Linked DNA regions of Homo sapiens: regions 1, 2, 4 and 5 are each linked to region 3. The links come from fine-mapping of genetic effects on gene expression. A gene starts in region 3. Each other region holds a variant in brackets. All regions are shown on one strand. Distances are from middle to middle.

Evidence for each region. PIP is the estimated chance that this variant, and not a neighbour inherited with it, causes the effect.
Region 1: its variant is fine-mapped to the expression of P2RY14 in esophagus mucosa (GTEx, PIP 0.97).
Region 2: its variant is fine-mapped to the expression of P2RY14 in whole blood (TOPMed, PIP 0.98).
Region 4: its variant is fine-mapped to the expression of P2RY14 in whole blood (TOPMed, PIP above 0.99).
Region 5: its variant is fine-mapped to the expression of P2RY14 in whole blood (TOPMed, PIP above 0.99).

Annotation. Positions count from the first base shown.
Region 1 is chr3:151,235,770-151,239,921 of GRCh38, forward strand. All of the region lies in intron 16 of MED12L (mediator complex subunit 12L), which reads left to right. The region is part of intron 1 of P2RY14 (purinergic receptor P2Y14); the gene reads right to left. Among named protein-coding and RNA genes, the nearest start is that of GPR171, 35 kb to the left of the region's middle. The variant A/G (reference allele first, on the strand shown) is at 2,358.
Region 2 is chr3:151,228,675-151,232,674 of GRCh38, forward strand. All of the region lies in intron 16 of MED12L (mediator complex subunit 12L), which reads left to right. The region is part of intron 1 of P2RY14 (purinergic receptor P2Y14); the gene reads right to left. Among named protein-coding and RNA genes, the nearest start is that of GPR171, 27 kb to the left of the region's middle. The variant C/G (reference allele first, on the strand shown) is at 2,198.
Region 3 is chr3:151,276,858-151,280,996 of GRCh38, forward strand. P2RY14 (purinergic receptor P2Y14) reads right to left here and starts at 1,685. Exons shown (of 3, transcript NM_014879.4): 1 at 1,430-1,685. All of the region lies in intron 16 of MED12L (mediator complex subunit 12L), which reads left to right.
Region 4 is chr3:150,975,467-150,979,618 of GRCh38, forward strand. All of the region lies in intron 1 of CLRN1-AS1 (CLRN1 antisense RNA 1), which reads left to right. Among named protein-coding and RNA genes, the nearest start is that of CLRN1, 4.8 kb to the left of the region's middle. The variant C/T (reference allele first, on the strand shown) is at 1,854.
Region 5 is chr3:150,987,597-150,991,748 of GRCh38, forward strand. All of the region lies in intron 1 of CLRN1-AS1 (CLRN1 antisense RNA 1), which reads left to right. Among named protein-coding and RNA genes, the nearest start is that of CLRN1, 17 kb to the left of the region's middle. The variant C/A (reference allele first, on the strand shown) is at 2,439.

The DNA.
Region 1 (4,152 bases), 41 kb before region 3:
TGTGATTGTCAGTCTCTGGTACCTTTGTGTGGCTGCCACATGCTGGTCTCTGTTAAAATGTCACCTTCTCAGCAAGGCCTTTCCTGTTCATGGCATCTAACATAGCCATTCCCCCTATGTCGCATTCTCTAGCCTCTTACCACGTTTGTTTTCTCTTGTCTCCCTTTGTTGTTTAAAATATTAGGTTGGTGCAAAAGTAATTGTGGTTTTTGTGATGACTTTCAATGGCAAAAACTGCAATTACTTTTGCACCAATCTAATATTTTTTAACTTATTCTCCTCTCCCCCTATTCTTACATACAGCCCTTCTTAAAGGTAAGCTTTGCCAGACCAGAATTTATTTCTCTTGTTAACGGCAAAATTAGGAGGTCCCAGAATAGAGCTTGCTCTACAGTTAGAAGCTCAATGAATATTTATGGAATTTCAGAATGAACTTACTTATACAACTTTGGTCAAATTAAGGATTTCCTTAACTGTCAAATGATGAGTTTGTTCAGCACTTCTAGAGTTTTAAAATGTACTTTTATATTTTGAATTGCCACTTCAATGTGCATAGTAGATTAACATATATAGATATCCTTTTAAATCTCTGGATCACAGAATTAGAATAATCATAATTCTTGATTCAGGAAGCATTCTTGTTATGCAGCATTCAAGCAAGGATGACTTTTTACAGATTTATTTTGTTATTCTTAACGATGTTAATAATCTCCTTCAGACTCAGTAACCAAAACGAAAGCCAAGACCTTGACAGTAAGCAGCTGCTCTTGTCTAAATGGTCCATCCTCCCACCCCCATGCCATCTCTCTGGATACTTTTATTCCACATTACCTGAGTCATGTGTTCTTCAATCTTTCACTTTTCCTGTTTTACAAATTTTTGTAACATCTATATGTATTCCTAAAAGTGTGTGTGAATGAAGTTATGATTTTAAAACTGTATGTAATCTCTTCATGATTTTTCTATATATTTTACTGACATAAATATATAAAATTTGATTTCATATATATCGTACACATCCATGTTATTAAGTATTGCTATAATTAATTTTGTTTTGGTTACTGTATAGCATTCTGCTGTGTGACCATATCATAGTTAATTCAGTTTCTTGTATTTGGGGTATTTCCAGGTTTTTGCCATTGTGAGTCATGCCGAGATGCATATCTTTGTTGCCTATTGATGGACATTTGAAAATTTCTCGTGGATATAAACCTAGGAGTTAAATTGCTGAGTCAAGGACAGCATGAATGTTAAACTTCAGGAAGTGATGCCAAACTTTTTTTTTTTTTTTTTTTTTGAGACGGAATCTCGCTCTGTTGCCCAGGCTGGAGTACCAGTCTCGGCTAACTGCAACCTCCGTTTCCCAGGTTCAAGCGATTCTGCCTCAGCCTCCATAGTAGCTGGGACTACAGGTGCATGCCACCACGCCCAGCTAATTTTTTGTATTTTTAGTAGAGACGGGGTTTCACTGTGTTGGCCAGGCTGGTCTTGAACACCTGACCTTGTGATCCACCTGCCTCAGCCTCCCAAAGTGCTGGGATTACAGGCGTGAGCCACCACGCCTGGCTTTTTTTTTTTTTCTTTTTTTTTTTTTTTTGAGACAGAGTCTTACTCTTGTCGCCCAAGCTGGAGTGTGGTGGCACGATCTTGGCTCACTGCAACCTCCACCTCCTGGGTTCAAGCGATTCTCCTGCCTCCGCCTCCCAAGTAGCTGGGACTACAGGTGCCCGCCACCATGCCTGGCTAATTTTTTGTATTTTTAGTGGAGATGGGGTTTCACCATGTTGGCCAGGCTGGTCTCGAACTCCTGACCTCAGGTGATCTGCCCGCCTCGGCCTCCCAAAGTGCTGGGATTACAGGTGTGAGCCACTGCGCCCAGCCGCCAAACTGTTTTCCAAAGAAGTTACACTAGTTTATATTCCTACCAATGATGTGTAGTGATCCTGTGGATATCAGTCCTCTCTGACGTTTTATCTTTTCAGATTAAAAATTTTTTTCTTATGAAATGTTATTATATTGTAGTCTTCATTTGTACAGTGATCTCAAATGATATGGGCATCTCTTCATATGATCACTGGTATTTCTATGAAATGTCTAGTCACATTTTTTGCTTATTTTTCTGTTGGGTTGTTTATGCTGTTACTGATTTGTAGACTTCTTTGAATATTGTTGATATTTTGTTTGGTGTCTCTACTATAAATAGGCTTTCTAGATTGTGACTTACTGTTTTCACTTTTAAAGTTATATTTCAAGAAGCAAAATTTACCAATTTTAAGGATCAAATTATCGTTTTTTTCTTTTCTAACTAGTGCTTTTTGTATCTTAAAACTTTTCTGTCCTAAAGTTTAGAACAGTGC[A/G]CATTTTTTCTTTTTTCTTTTTCTTTTTCTTTTTTCTTGAGATGGAGTCTCGCTCTGTCACCCAGGCTGGAGTGCAGTGGCACTATCTTGGCTCACTGCATCCTCCGCCTCCCAGGTTCAAGCAATTCTCCTGTCCCAGCCTCCCAAGTAGCTGGGACTACAGGCACCTGCCACCTTGGCCGGCTAATTTTTGCATTTTTAGTAGAGACGGGGTTTCACCTTGTTGGTCAGGCTGGTCTCGAACTCCTGACCTCAGGTGATCCACCCGCCTCAGCCTCCCAAAGTGCTGGGATTACAGGCGTGAGCCACCGCGCCCAGCCTGGAACAGTGGTTTTTAAAATGTGGTCTGCAGAACCACAGGGGTTCCTGACACCCTTTCAGAGACACTATGAAATCAAATCCATCTTTATAAGAGTACTAAGATGTTGCTATTTTCATCGTGCTGAAATTTGCACTGATGGTGCAAAAGCCATGATGTGTAAAATGTTCAGGTGTCTTAGCACAAATCAAGGCAGTGCACTCAACTGTTCATTGCATTTTATACCTTACTGACATACAATCTTAAACAAGAAAAGAAAAATCAGTTTTACCAATTGCTTAATAAAGCAATACTAGTTTTTATTAAATCTCAACCATAAAAATATCTTTTTAATATTTTGTGTGCCAAAATATTAATTATGTATAAAGTACATTTGCTACTTATGATTGTCTAGAGGAATGAACACTTGTATAATTGAGTTATAAGCTGAATTAGATGCATTTTTCATGGAACACCATTTTTACTTGATCGAATGACAAACTAATAATTGTACTTGGGTGTTTGGCAAACATTTTCTCAAAACTGAATGAACTGAGAGACAATTTTTGACAATGATAAAATTCAAGCTTTCAAACTGAAAGCAGAATTTTGGAAAGCTTCTGTCTGCTGTTGTGAGTTTCGTAGCTTTCCGGTATTGACACTGTGAGGAGGGGCAATATTAATTAGTATGATTTTTTGGTACTGTAGAATGAAAAGTGTTTATATTTACAAATTTCTGCATGAATGTATTTTATCTACATGACCAATGTATGATGTTATAAAATTGGGCATAAGTAAAACACATAGACTTAAAGGTCAAGACCAAAAGATTTCAGTGTTACAAAGTATAAAATATTCATTGACATGGTTTTAGATCCAATATTGCAATCATGCTTTAAAAAACCACCTGTTGAGTTTTGTGCTGTCAAAGAAGAAAATCCAGAAGGCCATTATTTATCTGTATGGGATTGGATTTTCTTCAACATACTTTTAACCTAAACATTTTGCAAGAGATTGGACATGGAAGTGGATATGAGAATCCAACTGTCTTCTCTAGGCCAGATGTTAAAGAGATTTGCAAAAATGTAGAATAACATGACTTGTTGACATAAATTTTTTTGAAAATATTTTTCATAAAAATGTTACTTGTGTTAACCTGCTATTTAAAAGTTTTATAACTGTCACAATTTTAATTTCTAAAATAATAAGTATGGATAGGTATACACAAAAGCTCTTTGAGGTCCTCAGTAATTTTTTAAGAGTAAAAGGGATCCTGAGACCAAAAATTTGAGAATTCTTGGCTAAAATACATTTATCTATATTTTCTGATAAGAGATTTTGTTATGGTTGTTAGTTTGCTTGTTTTAGCACTCCAGCTCTTAAGCTATTAAATATATGTATTATACTGGACTGTCTATAAATATCAAAAAAGGACACCACATTTTATGAAGAGTAATTAAATTTAAAAATATATGAAACTTCCCAAGTTCATTTTTG
Region 2 (4,000 bases), 48 kb before region 3:
TCCAGAGTGTTTCAGTTCTAATTTACCAGTCCCTACACAATGCTAATCTTTCATGAGAGTGGCACAAAGCTCTGCATCACTCCTGGCTTCAGGGTTTTGGGAACCAATTCTTTTTTCTCCTGGAACTAGGTTGAGCTGCCTGAATTACTGAATTTTTTCCAGCCTGTTCTTCTGCAGCATTGTTTTGGAATATGTGGTCCTATTCCCTGGGGCCAGGCAAGGAAATGAATCCATGACCTCTTTTCGCCTCACTGAGATGGTATTTGCATTTCTCAGGCAAGCAGTACTCAGATCTGCAGATCATGGGGCTGTTAGACCATTAGTGGTTATCCTTTGCTGTGAAGATGAAGACAAATTTCCATGTGTGAGAAAACAACAGCTTTAACTGCTTAGCTGAATATCAACCACTTGTGTGTTTGTTCAAGATTCAGGCTTATATAGCCAAAGGAAAAGAATATAAATATCCAGAATTTTAAGTGGGAGTAGAAATACTGTACAGAAGTGATTCCCATATACTCTCTAACCCAAAGTGTTGTATGTTTCCTCCCTGTTTTGTGTATTAATCCCTGTTAGAGGGTTCTTTGATTTTAATAAAACATACTGTGGTAATAACTTATAAATTCAGCAATTCTTTTTTTTTTTTTTTTTTTTGAGATGGAGTCTTGCTCTGTTGCTCAGGCTGGAGGGCAGTTTCGTGATCTCCGCTCACTGCAACCTCGCCTCCCGGGTTCAAGCGATTCTCCTGCGTCAGCCTCCCGAGTAGCTGGGACTACAGGCTCGTGCCACCATGCCCGGCTAATTTTTTTTTTTTTTTTTTTTTTTGAGACGGAGTCTCACTTTGTCGCCCAGGCTGGAGTGCAGTGGCACGATCTTGGCTCACTGCAAGATCCGCCTCCCGGGTTCATGCCATTTTCCTGCCTCAGCCTCCCTAGTAGCTGGGACTACAGGCGCCCACCACCATGCCTGGCTTATTTTTGTATTTTTAGTAGAGATGGGGTTTCATCGTGGTCTCAATCTCCTGACCTCGTGATCCGCCTGCCTCGGCCTCCCAAAGTGCTGGGATTACAGGCATGAGCCACTGCGCCAGGCGAACTGAGCAATTCTTAAACGAATTTGTGTTTTATTAACTAGAGCATGCAACAATGGAGCAACTGTATTAGTTGCAAACTTAGTAGGACTTAAGGGTGAAAGATGCACTTTTATGCAGCTTGAAGATGTTGTTCAAGTTGTATTTGAAATCAAAGACCTTTACTTTTTATGAGTCCTAGGCTCACATGTTGGGATCTGTTTTTTTGTTTTTTGTTTTTGTTTTGGATATGGAGTCTCGCTCTGTTGCCCAGGCTGGAGTGCAGTGGTGCGATCTCAGCTCACTGCAAGCTTCGCCTGCTGGGTTCACGCCATTCTCCCGCCTCTGCCTCCCAAGTAGCTGGGACTACAGGTGCCCGCCACCACGCCTGGCTAATTTTTGTTTTTGCATTTTTAGTAGAGACGGGATTTCACCGTGTTAGCCAGGATTGTCTTGATCTCCTGACCTTGTGATCCGCAAGTCTCGGCCTCCTAAAGTGCTGGGATTACAGGCGTGAGCCACCGCACCCGGCCGGGATCTGTTCTTGAATATGCGTGTCTGTTTTAGAACATTCCACTTGTGATATTTCACCTTTCCCATGAATTTCAATAGAAGTCAGTCAAGTACAGTGTAAGAAAATAGTCTTATGTCTTGCCCTGCCCCAGGGGAGCTGTTAGATGCCATTTCATTATTGCCTCAGGTATAATACCTGTATGTAAAAAAATTCTGATAAACACTCCTTTCTCGTTATACTATACACTACACTTTGATGCTCATTGACATCCTTGGACTGTGAAACGTGCCAGGACTAGTTTTGTTTTACTCCACGCTTTTTTTTTTTTTTTGAATGCACTTCCACTTCCTTCTAATGTTTCTTTGAACTCTATGTGTTATTGCTTTTCTCTTTTCTATTTTCAACGTCTCTTTCTAAGGGCTACTTCCCTTCAAACTTTAAACCTGCTCAAAGTCCTTAATAAAAAAAAGTAATAAAATCTGTATGTCTGTAAGTCATGACACCCCAATAGCTGTAAACTTGCTCAAGCCATTTTTAAATAACAAAAGTGAAACCCCCCTGCCAATGCAGAAGTAGTGACTTCCCACTGTCAGTGAGCTCATCTTGTTTGGAACTCT[C/G]ACTAGCCACTGAAAGGAAACAGGGCTCCTTAAGAGAAATTACTGATTTCCGATCAGGTACAGGAAAAGTATAAGTTGAGTTGTGACATCTTTTGATCAGAAAGCAAGGAAGTGCTCAGACCGATTAGGAAATGCTAAAAAAGGACACAGAAGCCGACTTGAGGGCACTCCTAGATCTGGGACAGTTTGGGCATTAATGAGAATGATAGCAACAGGTGAAAATACATTGAAAACCAAAACAAATTCAGGAGTTTATGGTGATATTAAAAGTACAGATTACAAAAAGGTAGGATGCAAATGAGAAAGCTCTTGTTTACAGGAGAATGCTGGCTAGTAAAGGTAGAAGAAGGGTAGAATTTAGGACATCACCATTTTGCAACCTCAGTGTGATAACTGATTCAGGCAATAAGCTTCAATTGTGGCCAAAAGCCACTGGGTGAATGGGTGTGGGAGAATAGTATCTTTCAGTCTGAAAACATACTCCCCCATCATTTAGAGTAATAAAAAGTATACCTCTGAAGCAGAGAGATCTGGTGGTCACTGAATGATCCAACTTACCAAAAGTGAGATAATCTGGCATCGTATGCCTCCTGATATGATTTAGTTAGATGTACACAACATACTTTTGTAATAAACTGTATCAAAAATCTTCAATGAGCAATCAGACAAATTTAGAATATGAAACATTTGATAAAGCAACCAGCCTTGGACTCTTTAAAAAAATCAATGCCACGAGAAACAAACATGATGGGCTGGAAGGGGACAGTCGTAGATTAAAACAGGCCAAAGAGAAATAACACCGTTAATGAGTGGTGATTGTTGGCTGGAGGGAATAGCCATACAAATTGTTTTGAGACAGTTGTATAACTCTGAATACAGATTCTAGATTAGGTAATATTACTGAGTAATAATCTTCCCAGAAATATTGATGGTGTGGTTAAGCGAGAGAGTATTTAGAGATGCTTATTGAAGTATTTAGAAGGGAAGGGTCATGATTACCTGCAACTTATTTTGAAAGTACTTCAGTACAAGAAAACAAAGTGTTATGTTTGTATGTTTGTATAAACTTGTGTATTCATGGGCTTTTTTTGCTGATATATGCATGCCTATATGCACATATACATGTATACACACACGTGTGTGTGTTGGTTTTGAGGGAAGGGTCCTGTGCTCCGTGCCTGACAGGTAACGAATGCCTAATAACAGTCTCCTGGGTGTCTCTGCTATTTTTCTTACCTTTCCTTCTTACTTTCCTGTGGGGTCTCCTCTGCCCATCCTTAAAATTGATGTTTCTTGTTCTATTCTTGGCCATTTTCTTTTCTCTTTCTATATACTCCTCTATGCCAAAGTAGTCTTTACTTAAAACATTGTTTGTAGCTCTTTGAGCAATCACAGTGTTGCTTTCCACAATGGTTGAACTCATTTACCCTCCCACCAATGTGTGGAAGTGTTCTCTTTTCTCTGCAACCTTGCCAGCATCTGTTATTTTTTGACTTTTTAACGATAGCCATTCTGATTGGTGTGAAAACAGAACTACCATTTGACCCAGCCATCCCATTACTGGGTATAAACCCAGAGGAATAGAAATCATCCTACCATTAAGACACATGCACATGAATGTTCATTTCAGCACTATTTCATAATAGCAAAGACATGGAATCAACTTAAATGTCCATCAGTGACAGATTGGATAAAGAAAATGTGGCACATATATGCCATGGAATACTATGCAGCCATAAAAAAAGAATGAGATCATGTCTTGTGGGAATATGGATGGAGCTGGAAACCATTATCCTTAGTAAA
Region 3 (4,139 bases):
GTACCTTGGAATCTCCCCACTGTTCTTTTGGTTTTATTTTTGTTTGTTTTTGTTTTTGAGACAGGGTCTCACTCTCTCGCCCAGACTGGAGTGCAGTGGCCCGATCTCAGCTCACCACAACCTCTGGCTCCCAGACTCAAGCGATTCTCCTGCCTCAGCCTCCTGAGTACCTGGGATTACAGGCATGCACCACTACCACCCAGCTAATTTTTGTATTTTTAGTGGAGATAGGGGTTTTACCACGTTGGCCAGGCTGGTCTTGAACTCCTGACCAGCCTCTCCTGAGGCCACTCACCTTGGCCTCACAAAGTGCTGGGATTACAGGTGTGAGCCACCATGCCTGGCCTCCTTGTTTTTTTTTTTTCCAGACATGACAATATAGAGTTCATTCATATATACCAATGTGTTAATTGTGTGCACACAATTGTATGCATGTTTGTATATATAGTATTCATAAATTTTACCGAAATATAAAATTCATTGCATGTTTACAAATCATAAAATATGCCATTTTGGTATTTTCCGAGTGCATTGTTTTCTTTTTAACTTAATGGCTAGGTTTTTTTTTAGTGCTAAAACTGATTATCAAGTTTGTATGTTTTAGAAAGATGAATATACAAACTATTTATTTTTTTACTAGTGTGATCTTTGATTCATTTTCTCCGTAGGATTGATTGTCCTTGGTTAACAAAGTATATGTAGACAAGATGGATTGCATGGGCTTGGTTGAATAAGCTGACATTGTGGGTCTGTGCTAATTCTCCTGAATGTAATTTAATTTATAATGTTTAAAGAATTGTAAGTAATTTAGCTGATTAGTCATAGACTATAAATAAGTAGCATATGAACTCAAATATTTGCTATGCCTAGGACAGATATTTCTGTGATTTACAATTTAAAGGCATTTTATTTTAGTAGGTGTTAATGGGGTTAACTTATCCTAATAATGACAAAGATAAAAACTTTTACCTATATAAGTGTATGTACAAGTAAATGCAACTATATATCTGTACACATATGCAATTGCAAACAAAGACATACTGACCTAAGTATTATGCTAATCGATTTTGTAGTTTTGAGAAGCAATTTTAATACACATTTACGAGCTTTTGAAATGTTTGTCCTGGATGAATACCTTTTAAACATTTTCCTTGATATCTCTTCATCACAGATATATTTTGACAGCCACGATTGGAAATCCTAAATCATAAATGATAATATTTCAGTATTGGATCCCCATATTAGCATGGGGAAATATATTAATATACCAATTATAGTTGTCAAACAAAAAGTAACCTACTGAGAAAAATGTGAGTGGCAATGGTTCAGTGTTCCTCAGCTTTGTTGCTGCCCAGCTCAGAAATCTTTTCTGTTCCCATGCACCATTCACATACATGCAAGTCATTTCATGGAAAAGCTGTTTTCTTACCTGCGTCTAGGCCTTCATCTGTGAGAGTCATGCTTCACTCATTTTGAAATACCTCTCATTGTAGGCTCCAAGGTAACACTGTTACAGAGTTCTTGCTCATCTTCAACTACGGATGAAAATCAGGAACTTGACAGAAACCACAAGATAGTGGGTCCCTCTGCTGCTGTTGTCAGATAGAATTTATTGAAGACTGGGACGTGGAAACAAAGAGGAAGGAAGAGACGTTTTAATCTCTGTGGGTGTTAGGCTGACTTCTGAGCTAGTTCCTTTCCTCCAGTAATGCAAAAACAGTCCTGCTTTCTTATTTCTCCTCCTACTTTTCCCCACATCCCTACATCATCTGATGCACAGCCAGGCAAAAACCTGTTTTCTTTTCTAACCTTTGCCATTGTCAAATTCAACATGTGGTATGAGGTGGAGAACTGATGTGTAAGATATGGTTCTTTCTGAAGCACCCTCAGAAAATTGTCAGCAGCTTCACAGTATAACGTGCAGAGATGGGTAGTTGGAGCTACCTGGAAATGCGGAATTAACAGAATAAAGAAGTATTTTGACACCAATGTCGACATATTCTAGATAAGAGGTGTTGCATTGTCATTTTTCCCACATTAATTTTCCCATATTTGAACATTACTGATAAATAGATCACAAGTAGGACTTCAGATAAACTCCTCGTGTGTTAACATTTTGGTGTTTGTGCTGTGTTACTATTTTGAAAGTCTTCATATTTTTAGTTCCTTTCAGGCTCTGTAATATAATTGGTGATGTCCTGCAGTGCTCCACTGTCTTTCCCATTGACTATTAGTGCCATTAGATTTGGAAGTTTTCAGAAGATGGCTACAAAGTCCTCTTCAAAGTGTATAACTCAGAACCAGAAAGAAAGAAGACAAGGGGCTGAAAAGCTTACTTTATAAGGTTCCTGCATTTTAAGTGTATTTACTTAGGCTGTTCCATTGCCAAATTATGGGTAACAACTAGTAAAGTTCAGCTTGCCTTAAAAACATAGCTATACATTTAGTTATAATAATTATAACTGGCTTATGACATGCCCGTTACTATTCTAGTTGCTTTATATGTACTTGCTACGTAGGAGGCAGTGTTCTGGACATTGGAGATGGAGTAGTGACTGACACATACCCAAACAGTTATTTCCCTCATGAAGAGTATTTTCTTACTTTCTGTCTCACAGACTTGCTAGTCACTGTTGATCCTTGGCAAAGACCTGTGAGACACAGAGCTTGTTTAGAGAAGTTCGCCATTTCTCCCTGCCAGAGGGACTCTTCTTCAGACCCCCAGCGGGCCCCAATAGTCCTCACTGATGCTTTGATTGAGGGGCTAAGAATACTGATGTGCATAGAGAGGCTTGTTAGCTTCAGCTGCAGTGAGATCTGGTAGGTAAATAAACTTAAGGACAAGTGGATGTGAGGAGGAGCCGCTAGAGCCTGGTTATTACCAGGGCACATTGCAGAGTCCTCCAGATGTAAACATTTTGCTGATTAAATTGATGATTTGGCAGGAACCGTATCTCTAAGGTGCGACTCTCAAGACTTCCCTGATTTATTGCAGGAGATGCTGTTTACTCTGACAGTCTCAAAAACACCCATTAATTGTTCCGGGTCCCTTTTGTGCTTCTTGACTTCCCCGTGGGGTGTTTCACATAGATGTTATTGAGTATGACTGGGGAGAACATGATAATTTGTTGCTTCTTGACTTCCCCGTGGGGTGTTTCACATAGATGTTATTGAGTATGACTGGGGAGAACATGATAATTTCTTTGACTGGAGCTGCTTGCTTGCCTCTTAATGCCAGGAGTTGCAAAGTCCAAGGCCAAAAGGATAGCCCTACAGGTGGTCCCCTCGTGGCAGGTGGTACAAATGGGTTGGACTCTGTGTAAGACACTTGGGAGTAGAGGGAGTATGGAGAAATGGAAAGCTAAAGGGCCCACCCAGGGGGACAGTTGTGTCTGGAAGCTTGCCAGAGTCATGGGCCTCATCTTGGGATGGGCCAGTGTCTTCAGAACATTAAACGCTGATTTGCATGTACTGTTCTAAACACTCTGTGTGTTTTAGCTTGATTACTCACAATGGCTCCATGAGTAAAGTAGGTCTGTCTACTACTTCTTCCCCACCTTTTTCTTAATAGACAAGGAAACTGAGGCATGGAGATGTTACATCAGGTTGCTGGAGCTGGGCAGATCCTGGAGCCTGTGCACTGCTACTGCCTTTATATGTCTCCTCTGATTTCATTTGTTGGTGTCTAAATCGAATACCTTACAAACCAGTGTAGACCTGATACCCTGTGGGCTAAAACAAAACCTGAGTGTGCACTGTATTGGGCTTGTGAGCAGTCAGCTTGTGACCTCTGTTCTGTGGTTTTATTGGCACGTAGCAGTACAAGGATGGTGAGGGGTGGGTAGGGGGCAGACAGCTAGGCACTTGAAAGGAAAGCTCATCTGGAAAGATTGGATCGTCTCAAATGCACATACTCGTACACTCGATTGAAGCGTACTCTGTGCCTACTAGATCTTTTCACAGCCAAAACACCTGGCAACCCTTGGAGAAGTAACTATTCCTTTTTTTCACAAGTAAGAAAATAGAGCCTCAGAAAATTTAACAGTTGTCTAAGCTAGAAAGTAGCAGGACTGGACTTTGAAGTAGTCTTTAGGTTGTGCTGTACATTTTGTGGATATGCTTAAATCACAGTTTAGCTT
Region 4 (4,152 bases), 300 kb before region 3:
TTTGACAAATTTAGAAACTGGCAAACCTATGTCTACTCCTGATTTAAAACAAAACCAAATCAAACCCACTGCTCTATGACATAAAAGATCCCTGAGTGGAAAGGGTGAGACTCACCCTTTGAGGCCTAAAACCTCACCCTTTGCTTTGACACGGTGGTTCTCAGTTTTGCTGCTCATTAGAATCACTTGAGAAGATTTTAAAAGTACTGATGTCTGTGTCCTCATCCCTGAGATTCAGATTTATTTGATTTTAGAGTATGGCCTTAGCGTCGAATCACCCCAGGTGATTGCATTGTGCAGCCAAGGTTGGAAGCCACTGCCCTTATCTCCTTTTCACATGGCTATCTACTGATTACAAACTAGGCTTTGCAGGCATCTCAGTGCTGGAATGCACACAGACATGAGCATCTGGGTCGCTAGAGAGGAATATGCTCATAGCAAATTAATAAATAGGCACTACCATTTACAGCTCAAACTTTCCTACATTTTTTCAGCACTAGGTTTCAGCATATCCACAACAAAAGACCAGGCCCCGATTCATAGATTTACCCCCAAATCACCATATGAATATCAATGGTGCTGTATCCTGTTCATGTGAGGCAGCCCCCCTCACCTCTTCTCCATGCAGCTTCCTTTCAAACTTCAGCATCAGCCACCCACAGGCTGCGTAGTAGTGTGTGTGATCCACCCTCTGAGAATGATATAATGGAACCTGGCAGTCATTATGCCTGACAGCCTTCTTTTGAAATTTCATCTTAAATGTCTTGAATGACAGTGATGACACCATTTTCCTTGCAGTCTCTCTGAGAATTTGAGTCATTAATGTCAGCAAGTTTTCACCAAGTATCCTGCTGAAATCTTTACTTCTCTCAATCTTAATAGGAATACATTCGGTGACATAAGAAAATGGAACTAGGCCTCCCCCTCCTCTGACCCCTTTCAGGTGCTGGATAATGATATAATTCTTCAGAGTGACTAGAGATTCTGTAGAGAAAGGAGCACAATTGCAGACTCTGTTTTCACTTCCAGTGTAGCATTTGTGCCTCTTCTCACACTAACTTGGCTGCATCAGTTTTTCCTTATAACCATTTGAAAACAAAAGAAAAAAAGCAGCCCCATTACAAAGGGATGCAAATTCTCACCTGGTTTGTTCGCCAAGTATAAGAGACAGTATAGCATGGCATGGGAAGATCCTGTCCAGGGTCTATTTCCAGCTGTATGGCTAAATTAAGAATTCCTTCTCTGGCATTAATTTTACATATTTATGAAAAGAGTGGTCTGGGCTGCATAGGTGATTCTCAAATCATTTTTAAGAAGAAAAACCATTGCCTCAACACAACTTGTGTGAAATAAGACAAAAATCGAGCTGCTATACTGGGAGGGTGGGTGATCAAGGAGTTGTCACTGGGCTCCCCAGCTCCCTACTCCCTACAGTGTCCTATCCCCAACGTGAAAGACAGCTTCGAGAAGCACAGTTTGGCTCCTTTAGTTCCCATTTAACTAAAGAAAAAAAAATTTAATAAGCCATAGAACTACAGTTTGGCCATTTGCTAGATTATGTCTCTTTTTTCTTTGCTGTGCTAACCTGTTAGCTATTACGGAATATTGCATTGCCCAGGGACACTGCATGGCTGATTATTCCAATTATTAATTTTTAGATTATTTAATGAGAGGTTCTATGTTTTGTCTGATTTGTCACTGGTAGTACTGATTTTGATTTTCCTCCAAATGGATCATTATACTCCAAGGCCTCTCTAAGAGAGATTCAACAAGGGTCTATCAAGCTTCCTATTCTAAGACAAGAGGCCTTTGTAAATCTACCCCATTTTTCTCATCTTTAAAGCAAAATCTGG[C/T]AAATTTGATTGACGTGCCTTGACTAATTCAAGTTGCTGGTGATCCTCAAGTAGCATTGTAATTTTCTAATGACTGTAAAGGAAAAAAACACTCCATGGAAAGAATTGATTGATTTATTAGAGAGAAAATTACCACATGTGCTAGACCTTGATTGCAGCTAATATTTGTAGAGCTAATTGCTTGAACTAGAGGATTAAAAGGATTGAGGGAAAGGAAGAAAAAGAAAACAAAGTTCTCTTGGAATACAGATGAACCCGCAGTGGATTTGGACTGAGAGGAGAGAATTCAGTACAGGGATTTTTGGGGCTGATGATGGTTGTGGAGACATTTAGAATAAGTGAAAGAATTGTGCTTCTGACACAAAAGCCACAGAGAGGAACCAGGGAGTGGAGTAAAGTTGCTGCCCATGCTGTCTGTTAAATAAGATCTCGTGGCCGGGCGCAGTGGCTCACGCCTGTAATCCTAGCACTTTGGGAGGCCGAGGAGGGTGGATCACGAGGTCAGGAGATCGAGACCATCCTGGCTAACATGGTGAAACCCCGTCTCTACTAAAAATACAAAAAAAATTAGCCGGGCGTGGTGGCGGACGCCTGTAGTCCCAGCTACTCGGGAGGCTGAGGCAGGAGAATGGCGTGAACCCGGGAGGCAGAGCTTAGAGTGAGCCGAGATCGCGCCACTGCACTCCAGCCTGGGCGACAGAGCAAGACTCCGTCTCAAAAAAAAAAAAAAAAGATCCAGTGTGACACCTTCGGATTTGTCTGGGTTTCTTGTTGGTATCTCACATTAAGGCTATGTTGATACTTAAGCTTCACCCAGCAGAATGTCTGAGCTCCTACAGAAAGGAGGAAAAAGTTACCTAACCTGAAGAGGTGAAGAAAGAAGGCATAGTTTAAGACACATCCTTTAACGATAATAGGCAAACCACATTCCTAGCACAGGGAAACAGATAATAATTGTCCTCATTGATATAACTTAGGATAGATGTGCTAAAATAGTACATTTTGGGGTAGTTTGATTTGGTGATTACCAACTTTTTTTTGTTTGTTTGTTTTAAGACAGGGTCTCACTATATTTTCAGGCTAGTCTTGAACTCCTGGGCTTAAGTGATTCTCCTGCCTCAGCCTCTCAAGTAGCTGGGACTACAGGCACGCACCACAGATATAAACTCTGTGACAGCCACATTTGAACAATGTGACCCACCCTCTCTAGCCTACTTTGATTAGGATTAGACATCTAAATCAACCAGATTGTGTCTCCTGAAAATGTAAAAGTAATATTAAGAGACGCAAGTCAAATCACTGGAAGCCAGTCTGCAAAAATTGAGAAGGAAGCAATTTTTTTTCCCCACCAATAAAGCCTTGAACTGCCCTATAGTGCCCAAATTTATTGTTCAGTTTTTCTCCAGCTGTCACCATTCTCCTTCCCGGCAGTCAAGTGCAGTTCTCTGTTTTCAAAGTTCTCTTTGTCTTTTACTTGTTTTGTCTTTTTCCTCTTTGTGTGCATTCTAAAAAAAGCTTCTGGGAGGCACTGATTTTCAGCTCTCCCCACCATCTGGCTCTTGGTCCAGGGCACTAGGTGAAACAAACTGTGATGGCTGCCTAGTGAAGGGACAGGTGGTAGCTACTCAGACCCTATGTGAGGTACATATATATATTGGTATCAACCGTCCGGAGTCACAAGGTCTCTGTGGCCAACACTGCCCTAGCTTAGTGGGAGCTTTCAATCAAGCTGGCCTTGTCTGGTCCTTCCTTCATCAGGGATGAATATTGCCCTTTTATACTGTCACTAAAGGTGTTCAGGGCCCCACCCTCTTATCCTGGAGGAACCATAAGAGTACCGGGCTGCTGAACTTCCTGGGATTGACTTCATGGAGAGAAGCAGAAGGAGTAGGGAGGGCTGAACTGGGTCCTGGAGCACAGACAAGCTGGGATGCTGTTGGTCAAGGCTGCTGTCTGGTGGCGGGCCTCACTAGCTGGCCACGAGAAGGACTGGATAGCAGCACAACTGGGTAAAATCATCTGGCACTTGACTTCCACTCTAGCTCCAGCTTAGTTTCCCAATACTCTCCCTTCTGACTACTGGGTGCCTTCCTCCTTTTTACTTTCCTAGACTACAGTGACCTTTAGCAAATTGGCAGGCAGCAATGTGTGTCCTGCTTAGATCTGACTCTTTCTGCCTCCAACCCCCAGGGGAGATATAAAGGAATCAGACATGTAGAGAAGGGAGAACACACATGAATTAATATTTCAAATATCTTCTACCATAACTGTTCTAGATGCGCATGCTTTCTCCTCCTTT
Region 5 (4,152 bases), 290 kb before region 3:
CAATGTGTTAGTCTCTTAAACCATATAGAAAACAAAAGGTAGTATTACAAACTGTTGTTATGATAATATTGACTTTTATAATTGCATGCGTGTGTACCTTTATTGAGATTCTTATTTATTTATAAGATTGTGAGTTACTGTCTAGTGTCCTTTTATTTTACCGTGCCTTACTCCCTTGAACATGTCTTACAGGGCAGGGCTAGTGATGACAAACTCCCTCATCTTTTGTTTTATCTGGGAATATCTTAATTTCTCCTTCACTTTGAAGGACAGTTTTGCCAGATATAGGAATCTTGGTTGACAGTTTTTTTTCTTTTCTTTTCGAACTTTGGATATATCAGCCTTTTAGCCTCCAAAGCTTCTGATGAGAAATCTGCTGATAATCTTATTGAAGATTTCTTGCATATGATGAATTATTTCTCTCTTTCTGCTTTCATGAGTCCCTCTTTGTCTTTTGAAAGTTTGATTATATATAATCTGTCTCTGTGTGAGTCTCTTTGAGTTTATTTTACTTGGAGTTATTTGAACTCCTTGGCATTTATGTTTATATTCTTCATCATATTTGTAAAGTTTCCACCATTATTTCTTTAACTGTTTCCTCTACCCTCTTCTCCTTTTCTCACAGTATGTATATTGGTGGTGTTCAACAGGCCCCTTAGGCTCTGCTCACTTTTTGTTAATCTTTTTTCTTTCTGTTTCTCAGACATGATCATTTCCATTGTTCTATGTTCAGGTTCATAGACTCTTTCTTTAACCTGCTCAAATCTGCCTTTGAATCCTTCTAGTGAATTTTTATTTCACTTATTGTACATTTCAGCTCCAGAATTTCTTATTGGTTTCTTTGTAGGTTTTCTGTTTCTTTATGGCTATTTCCACTTTGTTCAAATATTGTCTTCTTGACTTTCTCCATATCTCCCTTTAATTATTTGGGCATCTTTAAGACAATAATTTTAAGGGTTTTTGTCAACTAGATCTACCATCAGAATTATTTATTTATTTATTTATTTATTTATTTATTTAGAGACAGAGTCTCACTCTGTCACCCAGGCTGGAGTACAGTGGCATGATCTCAGCTCACTGCAACCTCCACCTCCTGGGTTCAAGGGATTCTCGTGTTTCAGCCTCCCAAGTAGCTGGGACTAGAGGTGTGCACCAGCACACCTGGCTAAGTTTTGTATTTTTAGTAGAGATGGGGTTTCACCATGTTGACCAGGCTGGTCTCGAACTCCTGGCCTCAAGTGATCTGCCTGCCTCGACCTCCCAAAGTGCTGGGATTACAGGCATGAGGCACTGTGCCCAGAGACCATCAGATCTTTTTCAGGGGCTGTTTTGTTTATTTATTTCTTCCTTTGAATGGACTATATTTTCCTGTTTCTTTGTGTATGCCTTATAATTTTTTTTATCAAAAACCAGACATTTAAATCTAATAATGCAGTAACTCTGGAAATCATATTCTTTCCCTTTCCCAGGTTATACTATTTTCATTTTTTTTTATTTTTTTAAAAATTGTTTTAGGTAGGTTGTTTCTGCGCCAAGGATAAGCCTGAGGTGTAAAATTAAGGTCTTCTCAGGTCTTTTCTGAGCCTGTCTTTCTCTGGGCATGAACATTTGTTCTAATTGCTAATGTATATGCAGTTGCTTTTGAATGTCCTAGTCTTCAATGTCTGCCTCCCAAAAGGGAAAAAAGAGAAAACTAAGGATGTGGAGAGTGGTGCCAGCCATTTACTCCTTTGGAAGTCACTTCAGCTGGACAGGGAGGGGCTTGCCACAGTGGGAGAGATGCAGCAACAATGGCCAACTATGTGTTTGTCTGCGCCTCTGTGATCAGAAGCTGCAATCAGTGATGGCTGGGCACAGTGGCTCATGCCTGTAATCTGAGTACTTTGGGAAGCTGAGATGGGAGGATCCGTTGGGGCCAGTAGTTCAAGACCAGCCTAGGCAACATAGTGAGACCTTGTCTCTAAAAGAATTTTAAAAATTAGCTGGGTGTGTTGGTACATGCTTGTAGTCCTAGCTACTTGGGAGGCTGAAGTGGGAGAATTTCCTGAGCCCAGAGGTTCCAGGCTGCAGTGAGTTATGATCGCACAACTGTGCTCCAGCCTGGGTGATGGAGCAAGACCTGGTTTAAAAAAAAAAAAAAAATCCACACACAGGTTATTCAAAACAAAACAAAACAAACAAAAAACAGAAGAAGAAGCTGCAATCAGTGAGCAGAGCACAAATGCACAAATCCCCAGCATTTGGAGGTCAGGGTCCCCTGGCTCCCACAAACTGTGTAAAAGCTGCTTCGGGAACAAGTACATACCTGCATACCATGGGGCTGGGGGTGAAGGAAGGATAGCTGCTACTGCAGTAAGAGCTGAAATTGACCACAGTTAACCACAATTTACTAAGCCTTCCCTAGACATTGCAAATTTTCAACAGACTCCAGAGTTCCT[C/A]AATAGCTACATCCGACAGATTTTGCCAGTGAAATTGTTTCTAGGTGGGCAGACAAATTCCTGTTGCTTCCTACTTTGTCATCTTCCCAGAATGCCCTCCTTGCACAAAAGTTTTTGAAACCACTGAATCTTTTGTCACCTCCAAACAACACCCTAAATAAGCAGATCTTTAGTCTCCAATAATTCTAAAAGTCAGGAGTAGTCATATGTTTAAAATGAGTGATAATAATGTGCTGTGAGGATGAAATGGAATAATATAAATACCTTGAAATAGTGCTTAGCATATAATAAATGCTTAATAAATGTTAGCTATTCTTTATTATAATAATTTTTATTTAAATTATAATTACTTTCTGAACTGGGGAGATGCCTCACCAGAAACAGTTAAAATATCAAGGATGTTTTAAGAAAACTGCTGGACCAAGAATTAACACTTGCTACATATTGGTTCCTATTTTTATACCAAATTTTAAAACATTAAACATAAGACTTAAATTTTTGACAATTTCTTGCTCAATATCCTAGTATGCTTAGTTACCATTCTAATATATCTTTTCACACAGGTTCTCTCTGAAATACTTAACTTTAGAAAGATTTATAGTTCTTAAGTGGGGCTATTTTATTCCATTTTAGTCCTTGGTAGTAACTTCCAACCAATGAATTCCCTGTAGGAATACTCACAATTTAGTGTATGCAATATGATTAATTTTAGCTCCAGAAAAAAGGCAGACATTTTTTCTTTGAAAATTTGAGCGGCTTTAATGTATTGTGAGTATGCATGTAGGATCTCATTCAACTGCAGTTTCTTATCTCATCAAAGTTATCTCCTCACATCCTTATGACATTTGCCTTATCTTTAATTTGTAGGAGTAATATTTTCCAGGTCAGAGGAGAGAGTAAATTTTCCATAGCTAATTTTCCAACTAAAAGCTGATGTACATACAGACACAATTCTGTTGGCATTTCCAGGGCATTGAATACCAAAGAAAATATATTTTATGATTATCTTGGGGGCATGAATGTACCTATATTATAGAAGAATTGGTAATAAAGAAGATTTATCAATTTAATTACTGGTGTGTTACACTTGGGCACCATGTAGCATTTTTTTGGTCCTACAAATAACTGTACTGAACAGGGCTGAATCTATGATGTAGCCCACAATGAACTCTCAGAGGTGTGGTTCCTGGAAGAAGCCTCATTGCTGAAACTATCCTCTTGCCCAAGGCTTTGCCCAACATTGTGATACACATGGTCAAGTGCAAACATCTTCTTTAGGAATTTCAAAGATTTGGCCGGATGTCTTTGCAGTAGAATTACTCTTTGAGTTTGAGAAACTAATTGAGTTCAGTATAGGCATGGAAAGACACTTGGAGGAATATGCCAAAATATTAATAGTGGCTATGCCTTGGGGAATGGCGTTGAATGTGAAGGAGAAAAACCAGAAGGGAACTTTCGCTTATTATTTCATCTGCTTCTGTATTATTGAACTGTTTATAACCTAAATGTATTAATTGCAGAAAAAAGGCAGCAGCCTTTACCAGCCACCTGGTCTCCCAGCTCAGAAACCAGGGAAGTAGGCACACCATTTCTTTTTCCTTCACTCCTCATGCCTGATCAGTAATTGAACTCTGTGGGTTTTCTTCCTAAATATCTCTCAAATGCATCCCTGTTCCCCGTTTTCACAGCTGTGCCTCAGCCCAGGCACTCAGGA